Homo sapiens: one gene and its partners. The protein of the gene in region 1 purifies or fractionates together with the protein of each later gene. This does not show direct contact. Each region holds a gene or a part of one and is shown in the gene's direction. Other genes may lie near its edges.

Region 1 (5,250 bases):
CGGAAGCAAGGCTGGAAGTCCCACGAGAGCAAGCACTGCCTGCTTTGTTGGCCACTATGTACCCAGTGCTAGACCAGCACCTTGCACTAAACAGACACCCAATTAATAGTCATGGAATGGCAGCGTGTGCCTGTAGTCCTAGTTTGGGCCCAGAAATGAAAGATTGCAGTGAGCTATGACCACGCGCCACTGCACTCCAGCCTGGGCAACAGAGCAAGACCTTGTCTCAAGAAAATAAAAAATAAAAAAGTCATTGAATGAAGTATAGAACTAGGCAAGGCAATTTCAGATAGAAGTAGGTACCATCGGCCGGGCGCAGTGGCTCATGCCTGTAATCCCAGCACTTTGGGAGGCTGAGGCAGGCGGATCACCGAGGTCAGGAGTTCACGACCAGCCTGACCAACATGCAGAAATCCTGTCTCTACTAAAAATACAAAAATTAGCCAGGCGTGGTGGCGCATGCCTGTAGTCCCAGCTACTCAGGAAGCTGAGGCAGGAGAATTGCTTGAACCCGAGAGGCGGAGGTTGCAGTGAACCAAGATTGCACCATTGTACTCCAGCCTGGGCAACAAGAGTGAAACTCTGTCTCAAAAGTAAAAAATAAAAATAAAATGAAATGGTGCTGGCATGAAGAGCTCCTAGGCAAAGCAGATGCCACTTTTTATAGGATTTTCAGGGACAGGCTCTATGAGGTGATGTCTGAACTGAGACCCAAATGACAAGAAGAAGGTGTGAGTGTTGCAGACACTAGGGGCTGGTAGTACAAAGCCTAAGGTGGGAACAAGCTCTACACTTCTGAGGATCAGACAGGTGGCCGGTGAGGTGAGATGTAATGAGATGAGGTCTGAGGAGGGCAGAGGCTAGGCCTGGAACACCCTGAAAAGCCACAGTGGAGTCATTTGAATTTTTATTATTATAAGTACAACAGAAAACTATTGAAGGACTTTTTTTTTTTTTTGAGACGGAATCTCACTGTGTCGCCCGGGCTGCAGTGCAGTGGTGCGATCTCGGTTCACTACAAGCTCCACCTCTTGGGTTCACGCCATTCTCCTGCCTCAGCCTCCCGAGTAGCTGGGACTACAGGCGCCCGCCACCACGCACAGCAAATTTTTTTTTTTTGTATTTTTAGTAGAGATGGGGTTTCACCGTGTTAGCCAGGATGGTCTCGATCTCCTGACCTTGTGATCCACCCGCCTCGGCCTCCTAAAGTGCTGGGATTACAGGAGTGAGCCACCGCGCCATGCCCTATTGAAGGACTTTTGGCACTTTGTTTTTTGACGGTTTAAAACTTTTTATTTAAGTCACACAGACAAGTACCCAGATCCTTAGTACACAGCTCAACAAACTTTTACAAAGTGAGCACATCTGAGCCCAGGTCAAGAAACAGATCATTACCAGAAGCCCAGACATGCTTCTCACCACACACGGAACCCCAGAATCACTTCACCAACAAGCGTAACCACTATTCTGTCTTCTAACCCCATAGACGAGTTTGGCTTATTTTGCACTTTACACAAATGGAATGATAGAGTATGTGTCTGGCTTTTTTTTGAGACGGAGCTGTTGCCCAGGCTGGAGTGCAGTGGCGCTATCTCAGCTCACTGCAACCTCCGCCTCCCAGGTTCAAATGATTCTCATGCCTCAGCCTCCAGAGTAGCTGGGGTTACAGGCATGAGCCACCACGCCTGGCTAATTTTTGTATTTACTTTAGTAGAGATGGGGGTTTCGCCATGTTGGTCAGGCTGGTCTCGCACTCCCGACCTCAGGTGATCCACCCACCTCGGCCTCCCCAAGTGCTGGGATTACGAGCGTGAGCCACCGCGCCTGGCCTGTGTCTGGCTTCTTTAGCTCCATATTACGTTTGTGAGAGCCACCCATATTATCAGGTGTAGCTGTAGTTTTCTTTTTTTCTTATACATTCTATTATGTGACTATACCTCATTTATACATTCTACTGTTTGTTTGTTTGTTTTTTTGCTTTTTTGCTTTTTTGTTTTTTTTGAAACAGAGTCTCGCTCTGTCACCCAGGCTGGAGTACAATGGCGCCATCTCGGCTCACTGCAACCTCTGACTCCCAGGTTCACATGATTCTCCTGCCTCAGCCTCCTGAGTAGCTGGGATTACAGGCATGTGCCACCGTGCCCAGTTAATTTTTGTATTTTTAGTAGAGACGGGGTTTCGCGATATTGGTCAGGCTGGTTTTGAACTCCCAACCTTAGGTGATCCGCCTGCCTCGGCCTCCCAGAGTACTGGGATTACAGGCATAAGCCACTGTGCCCGGCCCATTCTACTGTTGAAGGAGATCTGGATCATTCCCAGTTTGGTTTTTTTGCAAATAATGCTGCTATAAATATTCTTGTAGATGTATTTAGGTACAAATACGTGTGCATTTCTATTGGATAAAAACCTAGCAGTAAAACTGCTGATTCTTAAGACATGCAAGTATTCAGCGCTAATAGATATTGCCAGTTTTCTGTAGTTCTTAGTGTGAGAGGTCTGGTTGCTCCACACGCCACTGGAATGAAGAAGACTCCTTTGACCACTGTGTGGAGAATGGGTAGTAGAAGGTCTGCAATATATACAGAAAAAGACCAAACTGAGCTGGGCGTGGGGCCTCAAGCCTGTAATCCCAGCACTTTTGGAGGCCGAGGCCAGCGGATCATGAGGTCAGGAGTTCGAGACCAGCCTGACCAACATGGCGAAACCCCGTCTCTACTAAAAATACAAAGTTAGCAGGGCATGGTGGTGCATGCCTGTAATCCCAGCTACTCGGAAGGCTGAGGCAGGAGAATCTCCTGAACCCAGCAGACAGAGGTTACAGTGAGCCGAGATCATGCCACTGCAATCCAGCCTGGGTGACAGAGCAAGACTCCATCTCAAAAAAAAAAAAAAAGAAAAAGAAAAGACCAAACTGAGGTCACGGAAGACATCCAGGAGAGATGAGAGTGGCTTGGACTAGGCCAGTGGCTATGGAAATGGAGAAATATGAGCTGATTCAGGCTATAAGCACAGTGTTTTCTTCTTCATTTATGATGACACTTTTCACTAAGACAAAAAGATGGTGAAGAATGAGACAGAGAAGCACATACTACAAAGGGAAGCAAACACTTTAATCAAAAGAGTAAAAATCTCAAATAGGGCCAGGTGTGGTGGCTCATGCCTGTAAAATCCCAACACTTTGGGAGGTGGAGGCAGGAGAATCGCTTGAGTCCCAGCATTCAAGACCAGCCTGGGCAACATAGTGAGACTCTATCTCAACAAAAATTTTAAAATTAGCTGGGTCTGGCCAGGTGCGGTGGCTCACACCTGTAATCCCAGCACTTTGGGAGGCCGAAGCAGGCTGATCAGCTGAGGTCAGGAGTTTGAGACCAGCCTGACCAACATGGAGAAACTTTGTCTCTACTAAAAATACAAAGTTAGCAGGGCGTGGTGGCGCATGCATGTAATCCCAGCTACTCGGGAGGCTGAGGCAGGAGAATCACCTGAACACGGGAGGCAGAGGTTACAGCGAGCCAAGATCGCGCCATTGCACTCCAGCCTGGGCAACAAGAGCAAAACTTCGTCTCAAAAAAGAAAAAATTAGCTGAGTGTGGTGGTACAAGCCTGTAATCCCAGCTACTCTAATGCTAAGGTGAGAGGATCACTTGAGCCCAGGAGGTCGAGGCTGCAGTGAGCCATGATCATGCCACTGCACTCCAGTCTGGGCAACAGTGTGAGACCCTCTCTCAAACAAAAGCAGAAACCTCAGACAAGTAGATCATTCAAAATTGGTAAATCCAAAAGGCAATTCTAGGTGTGTTTGGATCCACAAGCCTCCAGTAAGTGACCTAACCAGGGAGGTAAAGTAAGGTGTCAGCATGGGTCCTGGCCCTGCCATGAGACAGGAAGAAGAGAGAGCAGGTGTTTCTCTGAGGTTGCTGGGGATGATATAATAGAACTGAAACTCTCAGCCCTTTCCCTGGAGAAGCACAAAATGCTGCCTTGGATGGTATGTGCCAGATAAGACACATGAGGAGCCAGGCACAGTGGCTCATGCCTGTAATCCCAGCAATTTGGGAGGCTGAAGCAGGAGGATTGCTTGAGCCCAGGAGTTCGAGATCAGCTAGGCAACATGGTAAGACATGAACTCTCCAAAAAAATTAGCCAGGCATGTTGTTCCGCACCTTTAGTCCCAGCTACTCGGGAGGCCGAGGTGAGAAGATCATTTGAGCCCAGGAGGTTGAGGATGCAGTGAGCCATGATTGCACCACTGCATTCCAGCCTGGATGACAGAGTGAGATCCTGTCTCAAAAAGCAAACACACACACACACGAAAGCAAGAAGCAAGACAGCTGTGGAATTCCAGAGATAGGAGACAGGCAAAGAACCTGACCTGGTGCAACGAAGATAAAGGTAACGGAGCCAGATGAGGAGGCTTAAATGCCTTACAAGAGTTAGGCGTTCAAGTTACAAGTCTTGGCCAGGCGCGGTGGCTCACGCTTGTAATCCCAGCACTTTGGGAGGCTGAGGCAGGCGGATCACGAGGTCAGGAGATCAAGACCATTCTGGCCAACATGATGAAACCCCGTCTCTACTAAAAATACAAAAAATTAGCCCGGCGTGGTGGCATGTGCATGTAGTCCCAGCTACTCAGGAGGCTGAGGCAGGAGAATCACTTGAACCTGGGAGGTGGAGGTTGCAGTGAGCCAAGATCACACCACTGTACTCCAACCTGGTGACAGAGTGAGACTCCGTCTCAAAAAAAAAAAAAAAAAAAGAGTTCAGTCTTGATGGGCTTCTCTGTGAAGAGACCCTAAAGGATTTGAGCAGAGAAAAGACCAGTTGAAAGCTATGTTTAGGCCAGATGCAGTGACTTACACCTGTAATCCCAGCAATTTGGTAGGCCAGGGCAGGAGGAGCCCAGGAGTTCAAGACCAGCCTGAGCAAATAGCAAGACCCCATGTCTACAAAATTTTTTTTAATTAGCTGGGAATGATGACGCATGCCTGCGATACCAGCTACTCAGGAGGCTGAGGCAGGAGGATCACTTGAGCCCAGGAGGTCAAGGCTAAAGTCAGCCACGATCAAGCCACTGCATTCCAGCCTGGGTGGCAGAGTGAGACCCTGTTTCAAAAAGAAAGAAAGAAAAAAAAAAGCTATGTTTAACCTGATAGAGGATAGAGTGTAGGGTGGCATGGGGCAAGAGCTATGAGAGTGTAATAGGGAGGCTGAGAACACCCTCATGGGAGGTGATGAGGGATTCAATGTGGG
Region 2 (5,250 bases), on another chromosome or scaffold:
AGGGGATCTATAACATTCCGTTCACTCAGTCACTGAAAGCAGACTTAGGGCCATTAGTTGGTTAACTGAAGAAGTAAGTTAAAGCAGGGAATCATACAGATAATAGTTATATGCATAACATTTTAACGAACACATAAACATTCTTTTGCCATTCTTTTAACATAAGGCCTCAGCCTTTTCTTGGAGTGTAGGACCCTGTTGCCTGTTTTTATAAGTAAAGCTTTATTAGAACACAGCCTTTCTCATTTGTTTATGTATTGTCTATGACTCCTCTTACCCTCCAAGGCAGAATTGAATATTTGTGATTGCAACAGAAACCACATGGCCTGCAACATCTAAAATGTTTACTTTTGGCCCTTTATAGAAAGAGCTTGCTAGCCCCTGGCCTACGTTATCTATGGTATTTTTAACATGGAATGAATACTTAAAGTCACTTGCAAAGCAGTCTCACTGCAGAATCTTTCTAGGTGTTTATGAAATGTCCTTCCAGACTTTTCTGTTGTCTCCCACACCTAACAGCAAGTTTATGTGTTATCTGTATGCTCACTTTTTTTTTTTTTTTTGAGACAGAGTTTCGCTCTTGTTGCCCAGGCTTGAATGCAATGGCACAATCTCGGCTCACCACAACCTCCACCTCCCGGGTTCAAGCGATTCTCCAGCCTCACCCTCCCGAGTAGCTGGGATTACAGGCATGTGCCACCATGCCCGGCTAATTTTGTATTTTTAGTAGAGACGGGGTTTCTCCATGTTGGTCAGGCTGGTCTGGAACTCCCGACCTCAGGTGATCCACCCGCCTTGGCCTCCCAAAGTGCTAGGATTAGAGGCGTGGGCCAACGCACCCGGCCTTGTGTGCTCACTTTTATCTGGTCTTTCGAAAGCATTCAGTGTGGTGTTTTAGAAATAACTACTAGAGAGTCTATGTAGTACAGTAGTTAAGTACTTGAGCTCTGGAGCCAAATTGCTTTGCCACTTATTAGTTGTATAGGCCATAGACAAGTTACTCAGTTTTTGCCTTTGTAAAACAGGCATAATGGTAGTATCCATTTCTAGGTTTCTTGTGAATATTATAGGAGTTAATTCATGTAAAGCATTTAGAACAGTGCCTGGCAGGTAGTAAGTACTCAGTGTTAATTGCTGCTGTCATTTTTCTCTTCTCATTTATACTTCATTGCTTTACATAGTATTTACGTACTTTCAGTAATAAGCACAACTGGCATAAATAGGTTTGTGAATAAACACACTGTCACCATTGATAAGCACACTTCACAGAGGGGGAACCAGAAGTGTTGTTCCCATCACATTGGAGAATAGCCTAATGGTGTGATGTCAGTTAAATTGGATAAGAGAGTTCTGTGGGATAGTTTGCTAAGAGTATAAGGCAACAGTTCACAGAAGAAAGTAATGGATTAAAATTGAAAAGGAATCCAGGACCATATTTGTCAAATACCTTGAAGGTCAAGGTGACAAGTTTGTACTTAGATTGGTAGGAAGTGGAATTTTTTATTCTAAATGGCATGATTGATGTAAAAAAGTTCAAATGGCTTAGGAGTGTATGAAGTAAAAAGTTACATTTCCCTAGCTCCATTCCATGTCAGTAGCCACTTCATTTTCTAATGGCCCCTAGAACATGAGGTTGTTGTGAAGGCATGGTAAACACCACTTGGGGCACTGGTATTAATCTGTTAAAATTTTCAATTCAGCTTTCCTTTGGATTATAATCTCAATTTTGAATTGAGAAAAATAAAGTTTCCATACTAAATGTGAATAAAATGAAATGACTGTTTTGAAAGTAGATACCATACTCATAAGAGTCTTTGATTCCTAAGTCTTTCTCTACCTCTTTTGTCCAACTTGGAAGTCTTGGTAGAGAAGGACTTAGGAATCAGAGACTCATCTCTACTGTTAATTCCTTTTTGCACCTTTCCCACCAGAAGTGCTACAAGAGAGAAAGATGATATAATAATCACTAGAAAAGCAAAGTGTTCGGCCAGGTGTGGTGGCTCCCGCCTGTAATCCCAGCTCAGGCAGATCACCTGAGGTCAGGAGTTCGAGACCAGCCTGGCCAACATGGTGAAACCCCGTGTCTGCTGAAAATACAAAAATTAGTCAGGCATGGTGGCGGGCACCTGTAGTCCCAGCTACTCAGGAGACGGAGGCACGAGAATTGCTTGAGCTCCGGAGAGGCGGAGGTTGCAGTGAGCTGAGGTCACGCCACTGTGCGCCAACCTGGGCGACAGAGTGAGACTCCATCTCAAAAAAAAAAAAAAAGAAATAAAGAAAGCAAAGTGTTTACAGTGACAAGTTGATTTCAACTAGCAGTTGTCAGTTAAGTTAGTAACAGGGCATCACCCAAATAACTGCATTTTAAAGTGGACAGGGCAGGCCTGACTGGGGAAAAGGGAGGGAAGGGGTAGGGGGTTCCTGATGCCTGTACTCCCACATGCAGCTCTTAAATCCATTTTAAAAACTTAAAAGTTTTCTGTAGTTTTGTGACTTAAGTATAACAAGTCATCAAAAGTCTGATACTTAATACATTACAATGAACAGTTTATGCCAAAAGAAATCTTATAGTAGGGCCTGGGAAGGAAATGCTTTTGAAGTTCCATTGCTTTGAGTAATATCATTTTATGATTTAGGTAACATCCCCAAGCAGAGGAGGGGCCCATCCTTAGGAATGCAAAGCCCTGCAGAGAAGGAAAGGGTTGAGAAGGGTCCACCCTACCTCTTTTCCTTTACACAATGGCCCTAGGCTTTTGTATACAACCTGCTTTTGTAGGCTTAGGACATTATGAAATACAGCATGGTAAGATGGAAGCCTGAATCTCAAAAGTAAATATGAGAAATGATTTGGAGGGAACATATAAAGAGAGCAAAATTCTAGCAACAGGTGACATATTTCCCTAGATAGAAGAGTTATTGTAGAACTATGATGAGTGTTTATATAATTTTGAAGCAGTTTACAGCATCTAGAATGTAGTCATTTAATTTATGAAATGAAAGGGAAATGGTGTAACTCATACACCCGCATCCTCTCTCCTACCTTTTCTGATGGCTTTTTATGAGTTCTCACACAACCCCTATGCATAATCTATACCTTAGTACATTTTACATTATTTTTAAATTATTTACATGTGTCCCTCTTTCACCAGAATGGGTTTCTTATGGTTAGAGTTTCATCATGGTACCTTCATTCGATAGGTATGCAATAAATAGTGAAAGAATAGTCTGAGTTCCTTGAAATTGCATAGCAAATGAGACCTAAGAGCCAGATCTAGAATGCAGATGTAGAACCTCTTTCAGTTCCTAGCCCAGTACTTTTACTGCCACACCATACAGCCTCTATCTGAGATATTGAACAATTTTTTTCTTTTTTCTTTTATTTTTTCTTGAAACAGGATCTTGCTTTGTTGCCCAGGCTGGAGTGCAGGAGCACAATCTCAGCTCACTGCAACCTCTGTCTCCCAGGCTCAAGCAATCTTCCCATCTCAGCCTTTCGAGTAGCCGGGACTACAGGCATGCACCACCACGCCCAGCTAATTTTTTGTATTTTTGATAGAGTCGGGGCTTTGCCATGTTGCCCAGGCTGGTCTCAAACTCCTGAGCTTAAGCAGTCTGCCCACCTTGGCCTCTTAGAGTGCTGGGATTACAGGCATGAGCCACCATGTCCAGCCTCATTTGCATTCTTGTACTGCATTTTCATTAAATCATTCAAGTTCCTTTTATCTTGTGTAACATATTTAATTGCATTTTCCTACTGAATAAAAAAAAGGGAACAGTTCAAATGTTTTCTAGTTTCTGTCTTATGCCATATTAATTTCCAATATTACTCATAGGCAAACCAACAACATTATTATCCAAACAGTTTAAATGCTATGTAATATAACTAAAGCAAAGTTTAGACAAGGAGGACCATTGTCTACATTTGATTATAACAATAAAGCAGTTAAAGCAATGCTTTGCCAATGTATATTTGTCTGACTAGCTAGTTTTGTTTAAATCAAACTGTGAAAGGCTGTATACTTCAAGAAACATGAAAGTGAGCCTTATGTGTGACTTAGTTCCTTTCAGAGATTAATTTTGTCATCTAATGAGCAAGCAAGCTATTATATTTCATATTTACTGTACCTTAAAATTGGAAAGTATTTAACATATTTTATTTGACCCTTACAATACTATGAGATTGGCAGCGTAGGTATTTTAATATCTGTTTTGCAAATTTTGCAAATTTTGGTGATTTGCCTAATGTCACATGGCTAGTATATGGCAAATGTGGGTCCAGAGCTCAGAGCCTTTGATGCCTCGTGCTGCATGCTTTCTCCACTCTAAGATACTATCTAGAAAACACTGAAATTGTCACATAAATCATACTAAAGCACAGTTAGCGGACTGGAAGTGCGTCAAGGCTACAAAAGGATCCTGTAAGAGGAGCATGAAAGGGTGCATCATGTGATTACATTATTCCAGGATGTGGCTTACCCAACAACAAAAGGTATCACAGAAATGGAGTAAAGTAGCTGGGAGATCCACTCCCCATTGGACTTAGGCCCTGTTATCATTACATAACTAAAAGACCTTTTCAGTTTGTTTGTTTGACATATCAAATTTGAGTTGTCCTATTAGAACCAGGCAAATAAAAGCTTTTGTAAAGGCCTTTGGAAGAATGTAGTTGTACACTTGATCTTCTTTGTACAGAAGGGTGGGAGTGGGCAAGAGAAATAGGAGCTTCTATGTTATTTGCCACCAGAACAGGATATGTAAAGCTCAGAAACCCATCCTGCTTAGCTGCTTCCCAGCAAGCCATCCGGAGAAATGGGGCTGGAGAAAGCGGTTAGTCTAGTGTTATGGAGCCTTCTATCAGAAGCAGATGTTATGGATTCACCTAACTAAAGAATGTTAGTGTCATCATTTAATAACATAAGCCTCAGTTTCCACATCTGTAAAATAAAGGAGTTGGATTTGATGATACTTTTTTTTTTCTTTTGAGTTGGAGTTTCGCTCTTGTTGCCCAGGCTGAAGTGCAATAGTGTGATCTCGGCTCATTGCAACCTCTGCCTCCTGGGTTCAAGTGATTCTCCTGCCTTAGCCTCCCTAGTATCTGGGATTACAGGCATGTGCCACCACGACCGGCTGATTTTATATTTTTAGTAGAGATGGCGTTTCTCCATGTTGGTCAGGCTGGTCTTGAACTCCTGACCTCAGGTGATCCGCCCGCCATGGCCTCCCAAAGTGCTGGGATTATAGGCGTGATCC
Region 3 (5,018 bases), on another chromosome or scaffold:
CTACTTGGGAGGCTGAGGCAGGAGAATCGCTTGAACCCTGGAGGCGGAGGTTGCAGTGAGCCAAGATCACGCTACTGCACTCCAGCCTAGGCGACAGAGCAAGGCTCTGTTTCCAAAAAAAAAAAAAGAAATATGCTGCTGTAAGTGGATGTTAGGACTATAAAAATACTAAGTATTTACATGGGAATTTCAAAGTAAAAGATTCTAGTACTGCTTGAGGGTTACCTCTCAGTGAAAAATATAATCCAAAAAAACCACAAAACCACAAGATAGGGCTATATTTCATGCAACCATTTTATCAAATAATATCTCTGTATAGTCTTAGACTAATTTTTTCAAGAAGCATAGAATTTTTATTTTAAGCTTATTGTTTAGGCATGACAAAGGATTGGTACCTTTTAGTACTGTAGAAAGTAACTTTCTTAGATATTTGAAATTGTGATCGTAAGTATTAATTTGAGAATGCATAATTATCTATTACAATATATTTCAGTTCCTTTATCTGGTGTAGTAAAGAGATGTGCCCTAGTTTAGAATTTTTTTTTTTTTGAGATGGAATTCCGCTCTTGTTGCCCAGGCTGGAGTGTAATGGTGCGATCTTGGCTCACTGCAACCTCCACCTCTCGGGTTCAAGTGATGCTCCTGCCTCAGCCTCCGGAGTAGCTGGGACTACAGGTGCCTGCCACCACGCCCAGCAAATTTTTGTGTTTTTAGTAGAGATGGAGTTTCACCATGTTGGTCAGGCTGGTCTCGAACTCCTGATCTCAGGTGATCCACCCGCCTTGGCCTCCCAAAGTGCTGGGATTTACAAGCGTGAGCTGGCAGGGCGTGGTGGCTCAAGCCTGTAATCCCAGCACTTTGGGAGGCCAAGGCGGGCGGATCACGAGGTCAGGAGATCGAGACCATCCTGGCTAACACCGTGAAACCCCGTCTCTATTAAAAATACAAAAAAATTAGCTAGGCGTGGTGGTGGGCGCCTGTAGTCCCAGCTACTCAGGAGGCTGAGGCAGGAGAATGGCGTGAACCCGGGAGGCAGAGCTTGCAGTGAGCCGAGATCACACCACTGCACTCCAGCCTGGACGACAGAGCAAGACTCCGTCTCACAAAAAAAAAAAAAAAAAATACCAGTGTGAGTCACTGTACCTGGTCCGAATTTTTTTTTTTTTTTAATATTCGGAGTTTTCTTAATTATCAAACAGATATTTTTGGGACTGTTTGCATGAAGAGTATTAGATTTGCCACTACCAAATAAACATGTAAGTATATCAACAGTTAATTATGACTTTTATGAAAAGTGAGAGATTAATAAGAAGCAGTTTTGGTCGGGCGTGGTGGTGGCTCACATCTCTAATCCCAGCAGTTTGGGAGGCTGAGGCTGGTGGATCACCTGAGGTCAGGAGTTCGAGACCAGCCTTGCCAACATGGTGAAACCCCATCTCTACTAAAAATATAAAAATTAACTGGTCATGGTGGTGCACGCCTGTAGTCCCAGCTACCTGGGAGTCTGAGGCATGAGAATCGCTTGAACCCAGGATGCGGAGGTGGCAGTGAGCTGATCACGTCACTGTACTCCAGCCTGGGTGACAGAGCTAGACTCTTATCTCAAAAAAAAAAAAAAAAAAAAAAAAAGAAGAAACAGTTTTATTTAAGTAGTTGTTTCCAGGTCCTTTAATTACTTGAGAAAAGCAGAGAAACCTAAAAAGTAGTCTTAGAAGTCACTGACCATAAAATTTTTTTAGAAATAAAGATATGAGGATCAGGTTTAGGTGCAGTAGATGTTTTGACTGTGTTTATAAAACACGAACAGTTTACTCAAAATTAAATTTTGTTCACATTGATAAACTTTCCTTGAGAATGTATTTTTCTGCCAAGAAATTCTGTTAAGCTGATTTAATTCCTGGAGTAGTTTTCTGTATAAAGTTGTTAAAACTTTCTGTTTTCATTTTATGTTACTCAAATTATTTTCAACACTATCATTTTTTATTTCCAATTTTACATCAAAGATTTGATTCATCCTTTGCTGTTTTGTCCATGGCATATTTCTCTGATAGCTTTTGCTGCTGTGATTTTGTTCACAAAGTGCGTGAGTGTGTGTGTGTGTGGGTGTGGGTGTGTCCTCCCTGGAGAGTAACCTGTGTCCATTTATTGACAAGAGGATTGAATGACCTCTATTATCATTCATCAGTTCAGTTCAAGACTAGAATGTCAGTACTTGCCAAGGGCCTGTCTCTCTTCTCTTTCGTATACACGGTGTTAGAACTTTCATTCGGTTCTGAACAAATCTGTTAGAGGAGTGTAGGCTTTCTCCACCTCAGCACTGTTGGCATTGAGAGCAGGTAATTCCTTGACATGGGGAGCGTCCTGTGTATTGTAGGATGTTGAACACCATCCTGGGCCTCCACCCACTAGATACCAGTAGCATCCACTCCCAGTGTGACGACCAAATTTGTTTTCAGACATTGCCCTATGTCTGCTGCTAGCACAAAGGCCCTGAGTGAGACCCTGAAGCAGAGCAGCATCAGCAGGACTCCCTTCCCTGGTCCCCTGAGCACCCCCATCATAGGTCAAGATACCATCCCAAGGTACTGGTGTTTCTGACCTGTTTTCTTGTTGAACTTTGTTCCATACTACCCCTCAAGCCCCAGTTTTCTCATAGAGTACTAACCACGTATGCGTCTGTCTGTTCCAACTGATTTATTCCTATAATGATTTTGTGGTGTTTTTTTTTTTTTTTTTGAGACAGAGTTTTGCTCTGTTGCCCAGGCTGGAGTGCAGTGCCGCGATCTCGGCTCACTGCAAGCTCCGCCTCCCCGGTTCACACCATTTTCCTGCCTCTGCCTCCTGAGTAGCTGGGACTACAGGCTCCCGCCACCACGCCTGGCTAATTTTTTGTATTTTTAGTAGAGATGGGGTTTCACCCTGTTAGCCAGGATGGTCTCGATCTCCTGACCTCATGATCCACCCGCCTCGGCCTCCCAAAGTGTTGGGATTACAGGCATGAGCCAGCGTGCCCAGCCGATTTTGTGGTTCTTAACCAGTGAACATTTTGTTCATATCACGTTAAGTAAAGACAGAATTGTATTTACATGCAGGACAGTCCAGCCTCATTACAGAAAGTCGGGTAGGTGGGTGGTGGTCATGTTTCTGTTCCATGTAGAATCTAGGGTAAGATCTTAGGCAAAAGTAGGTATTCAGTACAGTAGTACCTGGAGGCTTTTTCCTTTGTTGTATTTAATGTGATTGGTGGGTATTTGTTGTGACTGGTGGGTATTTGTTGTGATTGATTGGTGGGTATTTGTTGTGATTGATCGGTGGGTATTTATTGTGATTGGTGGGTATTTGTTGGGATCGATTGGTGGGTATTTATTGTGATTGATTGGTGGGTATTGTGATTGGTGGGTATTTATTGTGATTGATTGGTGGGTAATGTGATTGGTGGGTATTTGTTGTGATTGATTGGTGGGTATTGTGATTGATTGGTGGGTGTTTGTGATTGGTAGGTATTTGTTGTGATTGATTGGTGGGTATTTGTTGTGATTGGTGGGTATTTGTTGTGACTGGTGGGTATTTGTTGTGATTGATTGGTGGGTATTTGTTGTGATTGGTGGGTATTTGTTGTGATTGGTGGGTATTTGTTGTGATTGGTGGGTATTTGTTGTGATTGATTGGTGGGTATTTGTTGTGATTGCTTGGTGGGTATTTGTTGTGATTGGTGGGTATTTGTTGTGATTGGTGGGTATTTGTTGTGATTGATTGGTGGGTATTTGTTGTGATTGCTTGGTGGGTATTTGTTGTGATTGGTGGGTATTTGTTTGATTGGTGGGTATTGTGATTGGTGGGTATTTGTTTGATTGGTGTGTATTGTGATTGGTGGGTATTTGTTATGATTGATTGGTGGGTATTTGTTGTGATTGGTGGGTATTTGTTGTGATTGGTGGGTATTTGTTGTGATTGATTGGTGGGTATTTGTTGTGATTGGTGGGTATTTGTTGTGATTGATTGGTGGGTATTTGTTGTGATTGGTGGGTTTCATGTGCTGGTCTGTGTACTTGTTCCTTCAGTGTTGATTTTGGGTTCTAACCTTACAACCTTTTTCTCTTTCATTTTTAGTTTCTTTTTGCACAGTATATGCCTGAATGGCTCTGGGTGTGGGGAGCAAATATTCTCAACCGTTCACTACGTAAGGAAGCCTTATCCTGCACAGCCTGAGTCTGGATGGCCACTTGAGAAGTTTTGCCAACTCCTGGGAACCTCGATATTCTGACATTTGGAAAAACACATTTAATTTATCTCCTGTGTTTCATTGCTGATTATTCAGCATACTGTTGATTCGTCATTTGCAAAACACACATAATACCGTCAGAGTGCTGTGAAAAACCTTAAGGGTGTGTGGATGGCACAGGATCAATAATGCCTGAGGCTGATTGACGACATCTACATTTCAGTGCTTTTTCCCTAAGCTGTTTGAAAGTTACGCTTTTCTGTTGTTCTAGAGCCACAGCAGTCTAATATTGAAATATAATATGATTTGTCAGGTCTTATAATTTCAGATGTTGTTTTTTAAGGGAAATTGACCATTTCACTAGAGGAGTTGTGCTGGTTTTTAAATGTGCATCAAGAAAGACTACTGAAAAGTATTATTTTGTAACTAAGATTGCTGGTACTATTAGGAAAAATCTGTGTGTATTGTATAGCTCTAGCTGTTTGACTATCTGTAATGAAAATGCTGCACTTCAACTGGTATTTCATTAGAGAACCGTGTGTGTGCGTGTGTGTGGTGCCTTTGAGCAACTTTATTTATGGTTACCATATTTTTAAAAAGATTTTTTGTCAGGGTGACTTAACATGGACTCTTATAGGGTATTAAAACAATCTAGATTATTCCTTTTCATCCTAAATAAGCCTACCAAATTTCATGCTGTTGGTTTGCCATGAATGATATTACTTCCTACATTATATTTGTGTTTTTTCAAATCTGCTATGGAATGAACTTATTCCTAGATTTGGATATGTAAGAG
Region 4 (5,250 bases), on another chromosome or scaffold:
AAAAGTAGGGATGGGAAACAGTTGAACTACAAAGACATTTGGGGAGAGGAAGACCTGGGAAATGGTGCTAGACTTCTGCCACGTTAAACGTTTAATGCTGCACGCAGTACTTTACTGGTCAGCTTTCAGTTTCAGAATCTTAGGCAGAGTCAGTTGGGGAGAAAGTGTGTGAAGAGGGGGACATTTGTAAGAATGTGGCTATTCTGTGAGCCCTTATTGTTAAGTCGAATACTTAGTGCTTTCCTGCTGCCACTAGCTTCCTGGACACTCCAGACTTTGCCCTTCTGCCTCTTCCCCACTAACAGCCTTTCCTCCCCAACACCACCCTCTCTAAAGCCAATCTAATCTTTGATCGCAGTTTCTGCACCCTTCTGGCTCTGCTAACTTTGTTGAACTAATTTTTGGTGGCCTTTAATGTCTGGTGGTGGCTGTGTGAGAAACTAATGAGGGATAATTGTATTTACTTACTGATTATTATTTTGCTTTAGGGACAATCTGCCAGACTGGAGTGCATGGCATGATCATAGCTCAGTGCAGGCTCAAACTCCTGGGCTCAAAAGATCTTCCCACCTCAGTCTCCTGAGTAGCTAGGACTACAGGCACATATCACTGTGCCTGGTTAATTTTTTATTTATATTTCATAGAGATGGGGGTCTCACTATGTTGCCCAGGCTGGTCTCAAACTCCTGAGCTCAGGCAATCCTGCTGCATGAGCCACTGCACCTGCAAGAGCCACGGGGGCCACTGCCACTGCAAGATAGCAGGACCCCCGTCTGTATTTTTTGCTATGTTGACTAGGTCTTGCTATGTTGACTAGGCCATTCTTAAAGTCCTAGCCTCAAGGGATCCTCCTGCCTCAGCTTCCCAAAGTGCTGGGATCACAGGCGTGTGACACCACCTTCGGCCGGGTAGTTGTATTTAAAGGGAGGGTCTTGAAAGTAAACCCTAGTGTTTTTCACACTTCATTTGTGTTCCCCTGCATGATTTTTGTCTTATCTTTATGTCATCTGTACTGTTGTTTAACATTCTTCTTAAAGTTGACCCATTTTTTAAAACCCTAAAATTTGTTTAAAAGGGAAACGATATCATTGCCTTAAACTGATAACTACTACATCACCTGTCACAAATAGAAGGTATAAATTATTGAAGTTGTTTGTCCATGTTCCCCAAGTTCCACATATCCCACCTGGGGCAATACAGCCTTTACCCAAAGATATGACTCACTAATAGTGAGTTTTTCAGGCAGCAGTAGATGGGTGGTAGGATGGTTTGGAGTAGGCAGGCCTTCAGAGAGGGCCCCTTCAATCCTATCTTTTCCTAAAACTTGTGTGGTTCTATGATACTAGGAAGGCCACAGAATGAAGAATCTAGGAGGTAACAAGAGGTAAATGCAATGTGAAACCACTTCTGTTTTGATCTGAAGTTTGCCAAAAAGAGGCCTGAGTGGTGGTGAGGCTGTATACTATATTAAATTCTAGGCCCTCTGCCAGGGGTGTGGCTTCATTGATGCTGTGTTACATTGTTCTTTCTGTGCCAGCGTGCTCTTAGAAAACTCAGATTCTCCTGGGAAACTCAGATCTTTCTTGGGGGGCAGGAGGGATGCTTTTTTTTTTTTTAACTCATCAATAACCCAAACTACTTTGAGTTCCTTTCACATATAGAGAACTGTTTGTGGATGTTGCTAATGATAGAAACTGAAGTTATCATCTAGAATTTTTTTCCCCCAATCTTCATTGTCCGTAAAGCCTATTCCTTTAAGAATCCTATGAAAACAGAAGAAAGGGGGAGGGTGAGCTGCCCTGGGTTGTATGGTCTCTTAGGGTGCAGCACATGATAGGCATGAGTGGTACTTCCTGGTTTGATGTGAAATTCACTGTTGTCCATTAAGAGCCACCCCGCAGTGCTGACTGAGCTGCTGCTCCCTCAGAGGGTCAGGAGAGCGTGCTTTCATGATGGAGCAAAGCCAGGCTGGCTTGGTATTCATCAGGAACCAGGAGCGCTTAGTTAAATTGCCAGCACGTTAAGCTGTAGGGGCCTCTTTCTAAATCATCAAGATTTCAACTTTCCCACAAAGCCTAATCTAATGCTCTGGGAGGAGGCAGGCAGAGCCTGTCTTTCAGGGGCTGGGCTGGCAGGGGACCTGGCCTGGGAAGTGGCCTTATCAGGCTTGTTGGGAGGGATGGACCTGTCCCTTTCTAGTGTGTCCTCTCAACTTGGCAGGGGGCAGAGTTCTTCCCTTTTCTCTCTCTCCATGCCCTAACCGCTCCTTTCAATTCCCCAACTCACTTTCTGTGTTCACAGCTTTCTTCCCTTTTCCTTTCCCTTCTGTTCAATACTGCCCTCTCTTTTGAGCCTCTCTCTTGCTGGGCCCCATTTTCTCTCCATTCTCACTTTGAGGGTTGACTATTTGAAGTTCCAATTATAATGCTGTCCTATATGTCCCAGTGACTAGATGTAATTCAGAGATCCCTACCCTATTTTTCTGAGGAGAAGCCAACCTTCATTTCTCTACTGGCTTTCAGATAGCAGTGTTGGTGGGGTACTGACCAGAGTCCCTGAACTGAGTGGTTGGGTGAGGCTGGATGTGCTCCTCCCCGATATGGGGGTCCCAGCAGTATGGGGAAGGTATTATAATCAGGGTTTGCTGACAATGCCAGGATCCATTAGACAAGGGGCTGAGGCTTACCTGTGGGGACCCTTCCATAAGCTGAATGCAGAGGGGAATACTGCATCCAGGCAGTCCTCTAGCTTTTGCAGAGGACCATACATGATGAATGAAGGCTGGAGAAGGAGCCCTTGGGTGAGGTTAGCCTGGAACCCACAGGACTATTTGCAGCTGTGGATCCTGCCCTGAAGCTAGGTTTTCCCAGGTAGCAACTGGACCAAATTGTCTTCCCATGTGGTTAGATGGATTGTTGGAAGCATCTAGGAGCATGGCTTTCCTGCTTAATGAGTTAAAAAATTGATTATTTTCTTGTAAAAGCCATGTGGCTACTTTACCTAAAGATGATTAGCAAGGGTTTTAACTTTCATTGTTAAATATAACATATGTATAAAAAAGTATGTATAATGTACAGTTTAATCAATAATTGTATTCATTAGTGTAACTGTGTGATCTATTCAGGTTTAGAAATAGAAGTTTATTTTTAAACCCAAATGGGGTAATAGAATGCACTGTGTTGCAATTTGTTTTTTTCCCACCATGTTGGTGCTTTTTCATATCAGCACAGGTAGTTCTAACTTATTCTTCTGAAGCGTCATATAGCAGCAGTTCCATGGATTGGAAATACCATGGTTTATTTAACCATTCTCATATTGATGAACATTATATTTAATATATATGCATGTGTATAAAGTTGGGTTTTTTTTTTTTGGCATACCGGCTGGCACTAGTATATATCTGTAAGATAAATTCCTAAAGGTAGAATTGCTCGTTCAAAGGATAGGGTGTTTTTATGTATTTATTTGGGGTTTTACTTAAAAATATGTCTTTATTGAAGAGTTTATAAGAAAAAAGGATAGACCCGCTATAAAAAGAAAGGCTGTCTGCTCTAAACATTAGGGAGGAATGGGACACCAATACCTGGTGGCTAAGGATAGGTCATTTTAGTTGTTGATATTTTCAGGTAGTAATGTCTTTTTTCCCAGGAATGTTTATAAATGTTATATCTTACAGAGCACCAAGCCCTGGATCCAACTAGAGGTTCTTTACAGAAAGCTTTATGGAGAAAGGTTTTAGCAGATGATATGTTATCCTCTGTTGAAGGGAACTTCTCTGAATTCCCTCAGAAAGTCTCTAAGTCTGGAAGAATGCTAAAATGTACCTACCAAGTTTAGTATTGGAGGGAGACAAGATTGACTGTAGTCACATTTTCAAATAATTCTGAACTATGGATAATTAATGTAGGTATGGTATGACTTTTCAGAATTTGCTGTTCCTAATCTATCAGGACAAGTTGAGAATACTTACATCTTTGTGTTATCTTAATGTTGGGGATAGCGGCTTAAAGCAATTATCTGAATGGCATTAGCAAACTATGTTACTAAATAGTTTGTAGATTTTTAGCTTCATATGAACTCAGTTATAAAAGCAGTGTGTGGTTTTTGTATCAGATATTTTTTGTGAGAAAGGAAAATAAGACAGTCTCTGAACCTCTTCATCACTCTGGGCCAGGGCCTTCAGAGGTAGATGATCCATTGTTAGTTTTTGCCTTCCATGTGCACTTTGATGCCCTTGTTCAGCGAAAGGTCCCATATCTGAGCTGTGTATCATTTTGTACTCCATAGAGGGGCTATTGTGAAGCCACAGCCAAAATGTTGATACAAAAGATACGTTCTAATACTTATTCATTCATTGACTATATGAGAATAGCTCAGGGCCTGGTAAAACTCTGGCAAACAAGAGATATTGAATGAAGTAGGGGATGGCTAATGATATTTGGGAGGTTGAGACCAGAATCAGTATTTGGACAATAATGGAGTAATACTGCAGGTTGTCTTCCTCCAGTCTGTCCCTAAAAGAAGAGCAATTTAGAAAATGGCAATACCCAGCAATGTGTTTAAAATGCTGAGCAAGTCGTAAAAAGAAATATCTTGTCCACGTTATGCTGACTATCAGAGGTCTCCTGGTGTTGCACTGTTACTGGGAGCACTGCTACCATCTTTAAAAATGTAAATCCCTGCTATTGCTATCCCCCTGGGGCTCCTGTGTTAAAGTGTCCATATCAGGAGCAAGTTCTTCCTAGGAGAAGGCCTACAGTTCTGGAATGCCTATTGTTGTGACTTTGGCCTTGGGTTTAAGATTTGAGACCATCATTTCTTACCTCTGCTCACTGTACATTCACAAGTATGGTATGACTCTTCCGATTGGGGAGTCATTTGGGCTTCTACTTATACTTCAGTTTTAGTAACTTGTGTAACACTTTGAGGTAACTGCCTTTTGGACCTCCCAAAGTAAGTTTTGTCTATTCTGTCAAACTACCTTCACCATATCCTTAAAATTTGGAAAACTTCCAGCATATTCCATCTGATGCAATAGCAGACAAATGGAAGTGATAATTTTATTTATATTAATAGCAATACTGAAGGGGAGGAGCAAGCCAGCTATATAGTTCTTTACCTCTTATCTCCAGCTCTAGGCCTGATATGTAGTAGGTACTTAATACATATGAAATAAGTGAATTATTAAGTTTGTCAATAGTATTCAACAAACAAACATAAAGTTACATGAATCCTTTTAAAAGAAATAAA

Evidence for each region. The genes of interacting proteins can lie anywhere in the genome.
Region 2: the proteins of TM4SF5 (region 1) and SLC31A1 purify together in Homo sapiens (affinity purification with mass spectrometry; one large-scale study listed by BioGRID and IntAct). This does not show direct contact.
Region 3: the proteins of TM4SF5 (region 1) and HSDL1 purify together in Homo sapiens (affinity purification with mass spectrometry; one large-scale study listed by BioGRID and IntAct). This does not show direct contact.
Region 4: the proteins of TM4SF5 (region 1) and CYSTM1 purify together in Homo sapiens (affinity purification with mass spectrometry; one large-scale study listed by BioGRID and IntAct). This does not show direct contact.

Annotation. Positions count from the first base shown.
Region 1 is NC_000017.11:4,774,319-4,779,568, forward strand, and holds part of TM4SF5 (transmembrane 4 L6 family member 5), read left to right. Parts: intron 1-5,250. UniProt on the Homo sapiens protein: Acts as a lysosomal membrane arginine sensor.
Region 2 is NC_000009.12:113,223,883-113,229,132, forward strand, and holds part of SLC31A1 (high affinity copper uptake protein 1), read left to right. Parts: intron 1-5,250.
Region 3 is NC_000016.10:84,123,821-84,128,838, reverse strand, and holds part of HSDL1 (inactive hydroxysteroid dehydrogenase-like protein 1), read left to right. Parts: intron 1-4,110; coding exon 4,111-4,209; 3' UTR 4,210-5,018.
Region 4 is NC_000005.10:140,181,027-140,186,276, forward strand, and holds part of CYSTM1 (cysteine-rich and transmembrane domain-containing protein 1), read left to right. Parts: intron 1-5,250.